Linked DNA regions of Homo sapiens: region 2 is linked to region 1. The links come from fine-mapping of genetic effects on gene expression. Tissue or cell type: skin. Region 1 holds a variant in brackets; the other region holds the start of a gene. All regions are shown on one strand. Distances are between the middles of the regions.

What was found. PIP is the estimated chance that this variant, and not a neighbour inherited with it, causes the effect. A credible set is the group of variants that fine-mapping cannot tell apart.
Region 2: it holds the start of IGFL2-AS1, and the variant in region 1 is the best candidate, but not a certain one, in a credible set for the expression of IGFL2-AS1 in skin (TwinsUK, PIP 0.57).

What each region holds. Positions count from the first base shown.
Region 1 is chr19:46,230,154-46,238,335 of GRCh38, forward strand. It overlaps IGFL1 (IGF like family member 1), which reads left to right. Exons shown (of 4, transcript NM_198541.2): 2 at 1-8; 3 at 121-364; 4 at 668-1,090. The coding sequence ends at 677. LOC124904728 (a long non-coding RNA gene) reads right to left here. Exons shown (of 2, transcript XR_007067273.1): 2 at 5,654-5,751. Among named protein-coding and RNA genes, the nearest start is that of IGFL1, 4.5 kb to the left of the region's middle. RefSeq lists an enhancer at 1-136. The variant A/C (reference allele first, on the strand shown) is at 3,927.
Region 2 is chr19:46,198,733-46,206,914 of GRCh38, forward strand. IGFL2-AS1 (IGFL2 antisense RNA 1) reads right to left here and starts at 4,330. Exons shown (of 3, transcript NR_135234.1): 1 at 4,108-4,330. It also overlaps a transcript of IGFL2 not described here.

The DNA.
Region 1 (8,182 bases):
AGCCCCAGGTGAGCCCAGGAGTGTTTGGGAAGCTGGAGGAGGGGTACACCTTCCAGGGGACCCCAGGCTGGGACCCACCTGCCACTACCTCCTGGATCTCACCAGCTCTGTCTCCTCCAGTGGCCCCCATGACTCCTTACCTGATGCTGTGCCAGCCACACAAGAGATGTGGGGACAAGTTCTACGACCCCCTGCAGCACTGTTGCTATGATGATGCCGTCGTGCCCTTGGCCAGGACCCAGACGTGTGGAAACTGCACCTTCAGAGTCTGCTTTGAGCAGTGCTGCCCCTGGACCTTCATGGTGAAGCTGATAAACCAGAACTGCGACTCAGCCCGGACCTCGGATGACAGGCTTTGTCGCAGGTGAGTCCTGTCCCCTCCGTGGGATTGTGGGTGCAGGGTAGCTGCATGCCTGTTCTGCCCTGGGTGGAGCCCCCATTCTCCTTGTCTCCCTGTCTCTGCCCCCTGCTTCTATTCAATCCACCTCTCCCTTTCCCTACACCTGTGTCTCCATCCATTTTTATTTCCCTCTCAGAATCTCACTCTCTCTACCCCGCTGTCCTCTCCTCCTGGCTCTCCTGTCCTCATTTCTGCCCATGTTCAGTCTCGCCCCCATCTCTGGCCATCTCTGTCCCGCTCAGTGTCTCTCTCTGTCACTATCTCCAGTGTCAGCTAATGGAACATCAGGGGAACGATGACTCCTGGATTCTCCTTCCTGGGTGGGCCTGGAGAAAGAGGCTGGTGTTACCTGAGATCTGGGATGCTGAGTGGCTGTTTGGGGGCCAGAGAAACACACACTCAACTGCCCACTTCATTCTGTGACCTGTCTGAGGCCCACCCTGCAGCTGCCCTGAGGAGGCCCACAGGTCCCCTTCTAGAATTCTGGACAGCATGAGATGCGTGTGCTGATGGGGGCCCAGGGACTCTGAACCCTCCTGATGACCCCTATGGCCAACATCAACCCGGCACCACCCCAAGGCTGGCTGGGGAACCCTTCACCCTTCTGTGAGATTTTCCATCATCTCAAGTTCTCTTCTATCCAGGAGCAAAGCACAGGATCATAATAAATTTATGTACTTTATAAATGAATGCTGTAGAATTCATGAATTAGAGAGCTTGGACTGTTGAAAGGGGTCACAGAGGGTGACGTGGGGCCCCTTCTCTCTGTCACCCTGAGGCATCTGGGCCTTTCCATTTGTTCTGTTCGTGCACACACTTATTTTCTCTTTTTCCATTTATTTTTAAATTTATTATTTTGTTATTTGTGCTCGGTGACTAGGACCCTGGCCGCACCTGGGACAGGGGCCACCCTCCTACACCAGCCTCCACCACCCCATGGCTCCCTGAACCCAGTCACAACATCGGGAGCAGCCCAGGTGGGGTGGGGAGGAGGTGGGGATCGCGAGAGGGCTTCGGAGAGGCACTCCCTCTCCCACCAGTTCTGGGACAGAACAGGACCCGGCTGTTTGTTCTTGATGTACGTTAAGGAGATGCAGACAGACTGGGAAAGAACGGAGGTTCTTTCTCCAACTGGCTATGGGGAGAAGGTCAGAGTAGCTTACCAGACCAACTCAAAGCTACAAACTTCTTTTTCTAGTGCTTATATGCATTCTAAGCTCCACGCCTATGTGCGGAGTGCACCTGCAAGACAGCGTGTTTCATTCTTATCAATATCTAATCTTTAACTAGTGTCCAGGGTCTGGAAAGCTTTCTCCAGAGTCTTGGAAAGTTTCTTAATCTTAAATGGACCCCAGTATGAGGAATATGTGGAAGAATGCTATTATTATTTGATCAGATTTTAGGGTCTGAGAAAACCCAGCTGGGGTTTTAATGGGCTTGTTTTCTCATTCCCGCCCTCATCCCCAGGCACTAGTTTATCCAGTTCTATAATGTTTAAGGTATGCATTCATCAAAAATAAAGTTTAGTGGAAACTGACTCTTCTGGTCGCTAACAGAAACCTGATCTGCCACACACCCATCCCAGGCACGCGTCCCCTGGGATCGTGGAAAACCCACTGGGCAGGTCCAACGCCCAGAGATGCCACACTTAGTCTGACTTTGGGCCAAAGCTGGAGCCTGAGAGGGAGTGGGTGGGGCGGGGTGTGGAGGATGTGGGCTATGGAGGAGCCCTCGGGTTTGGAAGGAGGAAGCAAAGGCTGGCCAAGGCACCTGAAGCACATTCTTCAGGCCCTGTGCCAGGGACAAACCCTCGTGGCCAGTGCTGATGTGGAATAGATCGCAGGGAGGGGGCCACGCTGCTGCTTACCCAACCCAGAAGCAGGTTCCTTAGGGAGCGTTCAGCCCTAGGGTCTCCACCAACCTGGATTCCCCAAAGTCAAAGAAGCCACCACCTTTCTGGGTCCTGTTTCTCAGGGCCAGGGGGTCTGCACAGGGCCTGCGTCCCTGGGCCTCAGTCATCCGAGGCCAACCCAGGCTCCCGGACTGCCCGATGGCTTCCCTGGGCAGATTCTGACTCAAAGGGTTCCATCATCGCCCCACAGTTGGCAGCCTCGCCTCAGTGGCCCCAGACGGGCCCGGTGGCCAGGTGTCTGCACGTGCGGGAACTCTGGACCCGGCACATCACCATGGCAGCAATCTGGCATCACAGGGCAAATGCCCTGTCTCACAGGCCTAACCCTAGCTCAGGGCCTATCAGTGGGAGCACACCCAATGCTGGGTGAGCTCTGCCTCCCCATGCTAGGATTCTGCAGGGCGTGAGAGCTGTGCTGGCGCCTAGAAAGCGACAGACCCACCCCACCCACGGGGTGGCTGCTTCCTCATCCTCCACAGTGAGCGTCCTAAACCTTCACCCTGTCCACATGTGACTCTCCTTGCCTGCACTCCCCCCACCACCCCATGAAATGATCTCATTTGGTCATTTAAGTGGAAAACTAAAAAGTTTTAAGTGACTCCGTGAGAGCAGGAGAGAGGCGGGTCTCCCAGCTCAGACCCCGCCCTGGACGCCCCCACTGAAGCCGCACAGCAGGATGTAGGTGCCCAAGGCACCTACACGCGCCGAGAGGCCTCGCTCAGCCCCGCCCTTCTTAAACCTGGAATCCTCAGGTGTCTGGGTCCTGCCCCATACAGGCCCCCTAGACCACTGGTCCAGATCCCCAACCTTCCCCCAACACGAGGTATTGACATCAAAGCATCACCTCATCTGGCACAAGAATCTGAAACACAGACCGCACCTTACACCAATGTAGTGAATCCCTCCTTGGATCTCAGTCCAACAAGCCCAGAGTCGGGGCTCTGGGTTCCCGCCCAAATGCCACGTGTGCGCACAGAAGGCACCTGACGTCCCTTCTAAGGGACAGGAATCTCAGGCATCCCAGAATCACTAGGTCTGATTTAAATAGCGTCAAATAAATTGGAAAAGAATGAAAGTGCTATAAAGTTCGGCTGAAATTTTCAGAGGTTTTATTGGTTGTATCTGGTGGAGAGAGTGGGCAAGTCTTCTCTGAACATCCATGAGGACGAAGAACAGTCACTGAGGTGACGGTACCAAGTCACCGGCCACCTCCCAGGGATCCTCTCATCCGGTCCTCACAGCAGCGCTGCATGGTCGGACCTCATCACCCACATTCCACCAAGAGGAAGCTGAAGCCCGGGGCCTTCATCCACTCATGTCCTCCAGACCCCTGGCACCCATCCTGGGCCCCACCCCATCATCCAGGCCTTGGGCCTTCGACCTGGGGAGAGTCCCTGTCTCCTCCATGAGCCGCCCTGGGCCTGAAGAGGTATCCAATAAACAAGAAAGCAGAACACAAAGAGCTGTGATGGAGTGGATCTTATGTAGTAAGAATAAACTTATTTTGAGAAATTTCTGGGTCATGTATTTACCCACAGAAAAACAGAAGCAAACACACACACACACACACGCACACACACACACACACACACCACACAGGCTGTCACGTGTCCT[A/C]AGCACAAAGTGCCTTGAGCAAGGCCATTGCTGGCCCCACACTTATCCTGACTGTGATCTTGCTGTGATCAGCACATCCCATCAGTGTGGCAACAGGTGTGGCCAGAGTGGGAACCAGGCCTTTTCTTCAGATTTGCTCTTTGTTCCTGAATAGCCACCGTCAGAACAGACACCCTCCTAGAAGTCACTTGATTAAAAATTTCCTTTTGGATATTTAGGTTGATGTTTTATCCATCGGTTAAAGTATAAATGTATATTTATTATAAAAGTGTAATTATGGCTCTAATTAATGATTATGGTGAATTTTAATAACTATAGCTATGAAAATATTCCAATAGATAAAAACAGTGCTAAAATATACAGTTAATATAAGAGTGATTACTTTAAGATAAATCTTGTAATTTTTGATCTAATAAATCTTCATAAAATATACATGATCATGAAGCACATCAATAGAATTAATCCTAATATTTATAGCAATACTTGGCGTGCTCTCTCTCATAAAAAATAACATTAATAGTAAAAAAAAAAAAAAGAAACAAAGAAATCGGCTGGGCATGGTGGCTCATGCCTGTAATCCCAGTACTTTGGGAGGCTGAGGCAGGCAGATCACGAGGTCAGGAGATCAAGACCATTCTGGCTAACATGGTGAAACCCCGTCTCTACTAAAAATACAAAAAAGGAGCCGGGTGTGGTGGCGGGCGCCTGTAGTCCCAGCTACTCAGGAGCTGAGGCAGGAGAATGGCATGAACCCAGGAGGTGGCGCTGGTAGTGAGCTGAGATCATGCCACTGTCCTCCAGCCTGGGCAACAGAGTGAGACTCCATCTCAAAAAATAATAATAATAATAATAAAGAAATGATGAAATTTAAAAATTCTATTTAATTTTGGGTTGTTTAATTTTCATTTGGGGCATGACTATGTGAAGTAATAAATTTTGTTTGGGCATTAATATGGGATGACCTATGTCTCCCGCAAAATTCATGTGTTGAAGTCCTAACCCCAGTATCTCTGAATATAACTGTATTTGGAGATAAGGTCTTTGAAAAGGCGATTACGGTAAAATGAGGTCATATGAGCAGGACCTAATCCAAGCTGACTGGTGTCCCTATAAGAAGAGGATATTAGGGCACAGACACACACACAGAGGCCATGTGAAGACACAGGGAGGAGTTGGCCATGGATAAGCCAAGAGATAGACCCTCAGAAGAAACCATCCTGCCAACACCTTGATCTCATACTTCTGGCTTCCAGAACTGTGAGGAACTGAATTTCTCCTGTTCAAGCCACCCCTCTGGTGCCCTTGATTATGGCAGTCCTGGGGGATTAACACAGGCAGAAGGAAAATGAAGGATGCAAGAGTCAGAGAAAGGAAGAAATCAAATGTACTTTCTCCTCATACAATTTTCAAAATTTCAGTTACTTTAGGAAAACACTTTTTGGGAAATTATTCTAAACTGGGTGTTTGGCGTTTTATTCTAAACTAGGTGTTTAGTGACTAGATACTTTCTTTTCTTTCATAACACATGGTATCTGATTTTCTGGGAAACTTTCTATTTGACAAGTGTGTGATCAGGGATCTCTACATGAATTCTCCACAGAAAGACTGATCTCATGGATCTAGAATTTGCAGTGGTTCTTGTGATTAGATACCTGAAGGAAATATTGCTCTTATGTGACATTAAAGAAGAAAAATATGACACTTACGGCAAGTAAAAAGACGGCGTGTGGTTCTATACGCTTGTCTGGGGCTTTTATTGTCTGCACCCTTTGGCCTTTTTGAGTTGCCAGCTTCTCCAGGTCCTCCAGCTTCTCATGAGTTGCATCTAGGATATATGAGGCAAAAAAGAAAACTCAGGGAAACTCCCTGCTCTGCCATTTCTGTGGTCCCAAGGTCCTCCCTTCGTCTGCCTTCTTACCCTACCTTTCTGAGTCTTCTTATGCTTGTTTTATAGCTGTACTGAGCAGGAGAGATATGGAAACATATGCCTACCTCGTCTTTCTGGAAGCAGAATTCCACTCCTACTGAAGGGTTTTGGTAAGAACACATTTGCCAGATCAATAATTGCCTACCAAGGATCAAACACTGTTTTGATTTGCCCCAATAAAGATACAACATCTGGCACAGCATCTGTGGTTGGGGCACAGTCTAGCTCTGGTTTTGAAAACTTACAAATACCTGCCCTTGTCTGTGATACAGTTTGGATGTTTGTCCCCTCCAACTCTCATGTTAAAATGTGATCTCCAATGTTGGAGGTGAGGCCTGGGGAGGTGTTTTGGTCATGGGAGGAGATTCCTCACAAATGGCTTGGTGCCCTCCCCATAGTAATAAGTGAGTTCTCACCCTGTTGGTTTGTGCAAGAGCTGGTAACAAGAGTCTGACATTTCTCTTGCTCCCTGTCTTGCCATGTGACATGCCTGCTCTTCCTTTGCCTTCTGCCATAATTGTAAGCTTCCTGAGGCCCTCACTAGAAGCAGATGCAGGCACCATGCTTCCTGTATACAGCTTATAGAACCACGAGCCAATTAAATCTCTTTTCTTTATAAATTACCCAGCCTTGGTATTTCTTTCTAGCAATGCAAATGGACTAATGTAGTCGCTTTATGAGGGGTCAGAACGTGAATTGCATGAGGACATGATGATAGTGCCCATTATCCCTGAATTTTTCACATCATGCAATTCACCTTCTGGGCCCCATATAGGGGAAGTGATTCTGGAAAATGTGGTTCCCATCTCAGAAGGGAGTGGGTGTTGGGGACAAGGTGATAATAGAAAGTCTAGCACAGTCCACCCCATTCAAAGATAAGCATGTATTGACACCCATTATAGCCATTTTCAACTTCAAAATAAAGGCAGCAACAATACCATTTTCCAAGTAATGTGATGCAACTATCAGTTTTACCACCCAAAGACTTTTAATCTTCTCTAGAGAAGAGGGGTTTGAAAATGCATTGTCCATCTCCCAGATGATTAACAACCTCTCTTACTATTTCATACTGTAAATACCAAGAATCAAACAATATAAACCAATACTTGATAGAGGAGTATGAAGGCATTGAGACAAACAGCAACGGAATCAGTTAACATAGAAAATATTCACATAGGCCAGGCATGTTGGCTCATGTCTGTAATCCCAGCACTTTGGGAGGCCAAGGCAGAAGGATCGCTTGAGTCCAGGAGTTCGAGACCAACCTGGGCAACACGGTGAAACCCCATCTCTCCAAAAAATAAAAAAAGAAATTAGCCAGGCATGGTGGTACACGCCTGTAGTCCCAGCTACTCAGGGGGCTGAGGCGGGTGGATCACTTGAGCCTCGAAGGTAAAGGTTGCAGTGAGCCGAGATCACGCCTCTGCACTCCTGTCTGCATGACAGAGTGAGACCCTGTCTGAAAAAAAGAAAAAAATAAATAAAATATGTTCACCTCAAAGTGAGGAAGATTATATAAAAGTCCAACTTAGTCCTTGTTTCAGCAGCTGGCCTAGAGGCTAAAGCTGGCATTTAAAAATTTCCTCTTTCAAGCCAGACACAGTGGCACATGCTTGTAATTCCCACGACTCAGGTGGCTGAGGTAGGAGGCTCACTTGAGTTCAGGATTTCAAGACCAGCCTGGGCAACATAGCAAAACTCCACCCGAAAAAAAAATGTTTTTCACTCCATTCTATAATCTCTTTGCTCTCAGCAACCACCTCATCTGATTGTGATTTTTTTTTTTTGTTTTTTAATGACTATATTGTCTTCTCTTCATCCTTACATGAATCACCCTCTCCCTCTCTCCCCGAAAAAATCAATCATTCCATTGTTAGAATGCAGTTTAGGGTCTATAAACTCCAAACTCAGTACATAATTAAAATTTATATTTGCACTTTGGGAGGCCGAGGTGGGCGGATCACGAGGTCATGAGATCGAGACCATCTTGGCCAACATGGTGAAACCCCATCTCTACTAAAAATACAAAAATTAGCTGGGCATGGTGGCACGTGCCTGTAGTCCCAGCTATTCGGGAGGCTGAGGCAGGAGAATCGCTTGAACCTGGGAGGCGGAGGTTGCAGTGAGCCGAGATCGAGCCACTGCTCTCCAGCCTGGGTGACAGAGCGAGACTCCATCTCAAAAAAAAAAAAATGTATATTCATTGGGACCTTGAACTCAGTCTTCAAGTTTTACATGCAGTACCATTAGTTTAAGTTCAGTTGATTCACTGTCTTTCTGTCTCCTTCCACAAACCAACCTCTTGCATCAGATGTTCTCCTTAACTTGC
Region 2 (8,182 bases), 31 kb before region 1:
TATGCTCGGAGAAAATGAGTGACACAGCTTCCTCATCAGCCAGCAAAGAGAGGTGTTTAGGCTGGAGAGCTTCCGTCCCTCCTGTACACACATGCAATGCCACCCCATCCCTGCCTATCCCCTGGGAGGGGCTCCTTGAGGCCAGATGGAACTAACACCACAAAGATGCCAGGTGGAAGAGTCATTCTATTTATTCCTGGACAAAAGAGCAAGTGAAGAGAGAGCCTTTGAGAGTGGGAAATGTCAAGGCCCCCACGGTTTCACATTCCAGGAGCCCAGCTCTGCCAGCCCCACCGAGGAACCCTGGGAATGTCAGATTTGGGTCTCATCCAGGGATATCTGTGACCAAGGCCTGCCTCCCCTTCCCAGAGGGGCTGGGCCAGCAGAGGCAGGGTAGGGCAGCAGTTGGAGGCCTGTGGACTGGAGTTCAGGAGACCTGGGCTCTGGTCCAGCCTGTGTCTGTGACCAGCAGTGGGTCCTCGGACCGTGTCTTGCTTGGATTAGAAAGTGAGATGGGAGAATTAAACAAATGTCTGTCTGAGGTCAGGATCTTGCCCTTACTTGTCAGAAAAACAACCTCCTTTCACCGTGGGTAGAGGTAGAGTTCCAACCCCTGAGGATCAGTTCCACCAAGGCAGAGCTGGGCTCCAGTGCCGAAGACAGACCTGTCCCCAGACAATGGATTGGATAGGGTTGGGGACTCCACGGGGCTGGCGGAGGCATTGGACAGCTCTGTGTGCAAAGGCTTTTTTGACACCTGGAGAAGGGGCAGAGACAGGAGCACTGGACTAGCCCTGGCCACCCTCCCCGCTTCCCAGCCTCTGAGAGCCCCCTGCGCTGTCATGATCTCCCTCCACTGTCTCACCCCAGGCCTGACTCAGCCACCCTGAGAGATCAGGCTCAGGCCAAGGAGGGTCAGCTAGACTCCTCTCTCCTCGGGACACAATCCTAATCCTGACCCAAGAAACCTGCTTTCTCCCACCAGCGTCTAGGCCTCTACCTGCCTCGAGCCATCCCAGGAAATGCCTGGAACCATGGTTTGAGAGATGAAGCCCGTTATTGGGAGATGTGTTGGGACATCTAAGTCAGCAGCACTTAGGCAAGAAGGAAGCCAGGCCATGCCTGCACCCTTCTTCATTCCTTTTTAAATTTTTTTTTTAATTGAGACGGAGTCTCGCTCTGTAGCCAGGCTGGAGTGCAGTGGCACGATCTCGGCTCACTGCAACCTCTGACTCCCTGGTTCAAGCGATTCTCCTGCCTCAGCCTCCCGAGTAGCTGGGATTACAAGCACACGCCACCACGCCTGGCTAATTTTTGTATTTTTAGTAGAGATGGGGTTTCACCATCCTGACCTTGTGATCTGTCCACCTCGGCCTCCCAAAGTGCTGGGATTACAGGTGTGAGCCACCGCACCTGCCCTAATTTTTTTTAATTTTTATTTTATTTTATTTTTTGAGACAAGATCTCGTTCTGTCACCCAGGCTGCAGTGCAGTGGTGTGATCTCAGCTCACTGAAACTTCCACTTCTCAGGCTCAGGAAATTCTCCTGCCTCAGCCCCTGAGTAGCTGGGTCTACAGGCCCATGACATTATGCCCGGCTAATTCTAATTTCTGTATTTTTTGTAGATATGGGGTTTTGTCATGTTACCCAGGCTGGTCTTGAACTCCTGAGCTTAGGTGACCCACCTGAGTTGGCCTGTCAAAGTGCTGGGATTACAGGTGTGAGCCACCACACCTGGCCCTTTTCTTTTCTTTTCTTTTCTTTTCTTTTCTTTTCTCTTTTCTTTTCTTTTCTTTCTTTCGTTCAGGGTCTCACTCTGTTGCCCAGGCTGGAGTGCAGTGGTCTTATCATGACTAATTTCAACCTGGAACTCTTGAGCTCAAGCGTTCCTCCTGCTACAGCCTCCCAAATAGCTGAGACCACAGGTGTGTGCCACCATGCCCAGCTTTTAAAAAAAAAAAAACTTTTGTAAAGACTGGATTTTGCCATGTTGCCCAGGTTGGTCTTGAACTCCTGGCCTCAAGCAATTCTTCCTCATCAGCCTCCCTAAGTGCTGAGATTACAGGCAGGAGCCACCATACCTGACCACTTCATTCTTGTTGGTTTTGCTTCGCTGGAAAAAATATAAATTCTCCCTCAATATGTGACTTACCACAGTCATGAAGGAAGATTTCACTATAAGGCAGTTCATAAAAATCTGTGCAGTGTACACTAACCCATTTTTGTGTCTGTTTCTTGAATTAAAAAAATAATATCTATGACATACTCAAGCAGTTATACCACCCAATAAAATGTTGCCACCCTTAGTATGGAGGACACTACTCTTTCCTGAACTGCAAATGGAGAAGCCAGGGGAGCAGAGAGCAATGGAGAAGGAGAACACGCTGTCCCCTCTCCACAAGGGAGGAGGAAGACTGCAGGCCCCTCGTGATTGCACCATTACCCAGCTCCAGACTCAACCCTCCTCTCCACCCTCCTCACAAGAGAGATACAGGGATGTTCTACAACCATAAATCTGGTCACTTCCATCCCCTGCTTAGGCCTGGGCCATGGTCAGTGCCCTCAGGATAGACTGGAGTTCTCCAAGGGCCCATAAAAATGCCCCAGCCTTGCTGCCCACTCCAGTCTCCTCTTCCTGCCTTGCATTCTGGCCTCTGGGTTCAGCTTTGTCGAAACAGGCACAGTTCTCATTCATTCTTGAAATAGTAGCTCAAATGTCTTCTTCTCCTAGAAGACATCGCTGGCCTTCCAGGCTGGGTGAGGCAACCACTGTGGGCTCCCAAGCCTTTACGCGTCCCCAACCCAGCCCTGACTCTCTGAGTCATCAAGGCCTGAGGACAATCTGTGTTCCCAGTGATGGCACATGGCCCGCTATTATGTCTCTGCTGTGTCCTCTGCAGCACGTCGGGGTAAGGATGATTAGGTTTTAATGGGATAGTAACGGGCGTGTGATTGGTTGCCAGGGAGGGAGTAAAAGTGTCCCATACTTGTGGGTTAAGGTTGGGGGATACAAGAGGAAGACGTGAAGGAGGCTTTAGGTTGGGGAGAAGGGCGGCACTGAGATGTGGCTGTAGTCCAGGAATAGTCAGGGTAGTGGATAATTTTGTTAAGATGTAAAGGATCATTAACCTTGACTCTGCCTTCAGCTCCAGCCACCTCTCTAAGAGGAAATTGTTGGGCAGGTTGGGGAGGGCTAGTCACGGAACAAAACTGTAAGCTGGACCGGTTGTGAGTGGGGGAGGCGATAGAAGGATTATAGGGTGGGAGAGTGGAAGCTGAGGAAGAACTGGGACCTCGCTTGGCCTGGTGAGGAGCAGTGTGGGGAGGAGGGGAGAGGTCGGATGAGTTCACAGAAAAAGAAGATTTAAAGGACTCAGAGCTTGGGGTGGAGACTGAAGGAACAGACAGGAGAGAAAGAAGAAAGATCTGGAATGAGTCACATTGGGAGCAGAGACTAGGGAGGAACTGATGTGTAAAAGGATGCCTGGACATCAGGCACCTCAGACCATTTGCCCATTTTTTGACAAAATTATCTAGATCTTGTAGGATGGGGAAATCGAAAGTGCCATTTTCTGGCCATTTAGAACAATTGTTAAGTTTGTATTGGGGTCAAATGCTGTTGCAGAAGAAAATAAGATGCTTAGGTTTTGGGTCAGGTGAGAGTTGAAGAGGTTTTAAGTTTTTTAGAACACAGGCTAAGGGAGAAGAAGGAGGAATGGAGGGTGGAAGGTTGCCCATAGTAAAAAGGTAAGTTTAGAGAAAAGAGAGGGTAGAGACATGGAGAGGGGGGTTGGTACTTGCCATCCAGGGGAGGTGGTACTTGCCACCAAGGTGAAGGATCAAGGCAGGCGTCCCTGCAGTGGTCAGACACCTCTGGAATGTGGGTGAATAATCAGACATGCATCCCCACAGTGATTAGACACCAAGGGAAGACTGTCTTCCCGAGTCTGTGACCAGCAGCAGAATTTTGAGTTCATGGACAAAACGTGTCTCCTCTGTCTCTACCAGAAACGGAAAGGAACCAAAATTAAGGGAGGGAGAGATTAAAGAGTGGAGGGATATCTAGCAAGAGAGGTTGGAGAAGAGAATGAAAAGAGGCTACTTACCCGATTTAAAATTGGTGAGAAGTTCCTTCGGCTGGGCTGAGGACCCGAGGTCATGGGTGGATCTCATGGAGAGAGGGCGAGGACAGGGGACCGGTCTCCCAAAGGAGTCCTCCTGTCTCAGGTCTTCGGCACCAAATGTCACATGAGTCCATATGAAGAGAGTCCACCAACAGGCTTTGTGTGAGCAACAAGACTGTTTATTTTACTTGGGTGCAACTGGGCTGAATCTGAAAAGAGAGTCAGCAAAGGGAGATAGGGGTACAGCAGTTTTATAGGATTTGGGTAGGTAGTGGAAAATTACAGTTAAAGGTGGTTATCTCTTGTGGGCAGGGATGGGGATCACAAGGTGCAGGGTGGGGAGATCATGAGACTCATTGTCTAGGGGAGGAATGTCACAAGGTTGATGGATTAGTTGGGGTGGGGCAGGAGCAAATCACAATGATGGAATGTCATCTTTTGTGGTTCTTCAGTTGCTCCAGGCCCTCTAGATGTATACGTGCAGGTCACAGGGGTTATGATGGCTTAGCTTGGGCTCAGAGGCCTGACACCAGAGAGTTGGCCAACACCCCGGTACAGTTGGCCAGCTGCACTAGAGCTGCTTTGTTCTCCTGATTTGAATTTCAGTGGTTTCTTACAGTTTTTGCTGCTGCTGTAGAGCATTTAAGCAGGAAGGGATCCAGTTCAGCCATCCAGGGACTGGCACCCAAGTTCTTGTTGCAGGTAGCAGGGACCAGCTTGCAAGCTTGAAGTGTGCAGATGGAACACAGAGCACTCCAGCCACCCAGGCAGATATCAGAGGATGGGCCCTCAGGCACTGGTGAGGCCCAGTCCTCTCCCTCAGTGACATCTGCATTCCTAGCATTCTGGGTTTTTTTGTTTTTGTTTTTGTTTTTGTTTGAGAGAGTCTCACTCTGTTGCCCAGGCTGGAGTGCAGTGGTGCAATCTCGACTCACTGTAACCTCTGCCTTCCAGGTTCAAGCAATTCTGCTATCTCAGCCTCCCGAGTAGCTGGGATTACAGGTGCATGCCACCACACCCAGCTAATTTTTGTATTTTTAGTAGAGACAGGGTTTCACTTTGTTGGTCAGGCTGGTCTCAAACTCCTGACCTCAGGTGATCCACCCGTCTCGGCCTCCCAAAGTGCTAGGATTACAGGCATGAGTCTCCGATCCCAGCCCTAACATTATTTTTGAACATCTGAAATTTCACCAGATTCCTGTCTGTCACCTGGGAGAGGCTCCCTGAGGCCAGGTGGAAATCATACCCGGATGCCACCAGAATGATGATTCAGCCCTTTCCGTGCTTGTTCCAGAGGGGAAGCCCATGAAAGGAGGACAGCCAGTGCTCTCCTGTGTGCCACGTTCCAGAAGCTCAGGTCTCCCACCAGCAGCTGGGGTTGTGGGAAAGTCTTCCCTGAGGCCAGCCCCCGGGTGCCTGGGATCAGGGCCTGCTTGCCTTTCTGGACGAGCTGGGCCTGGGACTGGGGGGGGTTGCTGGGCTGAGACAGGGGTACCTGGGTCCAGTCTAGATGGTGTCTGTGACCTGCAGGGGCCCCTCATGCCAGGGTGCTCTTTACATAGAGGGAATAGGGTGAGAAAATATGACCAACAGATGTTGGAGTTTACTGTTATTTCCCAGGAAGCCATGAGAATCCTGTGACCCTGGAAAGAGACAGGGTTCCCAATAACTAGGGACATGGCAGTGAGTGATGCAGCCCTGCTCCCTGTCCTCAAACAGCTCTAGGTCCACTGTCCCTAAACAGTGACAACACAGAGTGGGCAGCTTTGGGATGTGGAATGCACAGGCGGCTGCTTCGGGAATTTTGATATGGGGTTTTAGCAGCTCCTGCTGCTTGCTGGGAAAAATCCCTCAGGGAATTGTAATGGACTTCAGGAGAAATGACACACAGGTGCTCGTGTATATGAAATAAGTTGTTGTTTTGTTTTTTGTTTGTTTTTGAGACAGTCTCACTCTGTCGCGCAGGCTGGAGTGCAGTGGCACGATCTCGGCTCACTGCAACCTCTGCCTCCCGGATTCAAGCGCTTCTCCTGCCTCAGCCTCCCAAGTAGCTGGGATTACAGGTACCTGCCACCACACTCAGGTATTTTTTTTTTTTTTTGTAGTTTTAGTATAGACGGGATTTTGCCATGTTGGCCATGCTGTTCTCAAACTCCTGACCTCAGGTGATCCACCTGCCTTGGCCTCCCAAAGTGCTGGGATTACAGGCGTGAGCCACCGTGCCCAGCATGAAATAAATTTTATAACCTGAATAGGACCCGGTAATATAGGAGTTAAGAAGAAATTATTTTAGGCAGATAGTGAAGGTAAGAAAGTCCTTGGTAAGGTTTTTCTTTTAATGAAAAGCACCCTCCAAATCATATACTTTTCCAACAAACAGCAGCCATTAAAATCAAGCCACAGACATAGAAAGGCAGGCTAGAAGCTTCCACAGGTGAATGCCAGCATTTGTGCCAATAGGAAAAGGCTACCTGGGACTAGGCATTTTCAAAATGGCAGCTCCATCTTCCCTTTTCCTTTCCAACCACATGCACAGTAGAAAGCAGATAACATGGCATCCACCAAGTGGAAAGTCCATTTGCATAATAAGATTAGGGTGGGGTGGTCAGCTTCTTCCAGCACTATGTAAATGTCACAGCTGATCCAACCAATCTGTGGGCCCTATGGAAATCAGATACCACCTCTTCAAACCCGTCTATAAAATCCAGTGCACTCTGCTGTAGGCTGGAAGTCCCATTCAGGTGCTGAGAGAGAGAGAGAGAGCTGTTCTTCTTTCTCTCTCTTTTGCCTATTAAACCCCTGCTCCTAAACCCACTTCTTGTGTCCATGTACTCGATTTTCTTGGTTTGAGACAATGAACCTTGTGTATTTACCCCAGATGATGACGCCACATTACCAGTGTCAGCACTCCCCAAGAAGAAGGATTGAGGCTTGGTCCAGTGTGAAGCAAGTGGGCCGTTAAACACGTGGCTTTGGCTAGTTTTTGAGCATGGGGCTATGGTGAGGGTTGCTGCCTGTGGGCTGGGGCTTGAGTGGTTTGAACGTCCTTCTGCTGCCAAGACAGAAAGCACATGGTGTGCCCAGATGTGCATTGGAGGTGACTGAGGAAGGGCTGGGAAGCTGACAATATCCAAAAATCTAATGTTGTTGTCATACAGGGAGATAAACAGGGCTACTAGAAAATAGCTTATCTGACCCTTTGAGAAAATGTAGAGAGAAGAGTCCAACCCAGGGCTGTTTGACCACAAAGTCTCAGGATTGCTGAGAGAGGGACTCTTGCATCCACAGAGCCCTGGCCCTGCCCCACTGCCCTCCCTCGAACCCAGCTTCTGACACCCCCTGCCCCGTCATCATCACCCACTGCTGTTTTCTCTACCCAGCCTGACTCAGCTGCCCTGACAGATGGGGACCAAGGCCAAGGAGGGCCAGCTGGGCTCCTCTCTTCCAAGAGATGGCAACTCCAGCCCTGCCCTCAGGAATGTGCTTTTCTCCCTGGCACTGGCTGCTCTCCAGGCCTAAATTCAACCCTGTTTTTAGCACAGAAAACCAGGCCAAATGCCACACCCAGTCTCAGCATACGAAGCACCTAGAACTGACACTGTGAGCTCTGAACTCTTTGTGTGTGTGGGGCGGGGTGAGGGGGAGCAACATGCCCGGACAGGTAGTCAGTGATTTTTAAGAAAGATGGAGGCGAGCTTATACCCAGAGGATTTTTCCTTCCAGTGTTTAGTAACTGTTTGGCTGTGACTTGCTAGGAAGCACTCATATTACATCAGTCCAAAAGAAAGTTTAATTGAACACTGATGAATAAGACACTGTGCCATGCACACTCTTCTATTTCTTTTGATTCTAGTTGAATGTATAAGATACCCATGTTGATGAATAAATTGATTCACAACCTGAGAGTGTCACAATCCCCATGTTGGAGATCACTGCTCTACCCTGCAGCTTCAGGAGAGGGGAGGCCAGAAGGCAGAATGAGAAATGGGGTCGGGGGTGTGAGTGCTTATCTCATCCACCCATGACAGCGAGTGGGCCTGCAGGACTCTGGAAATTG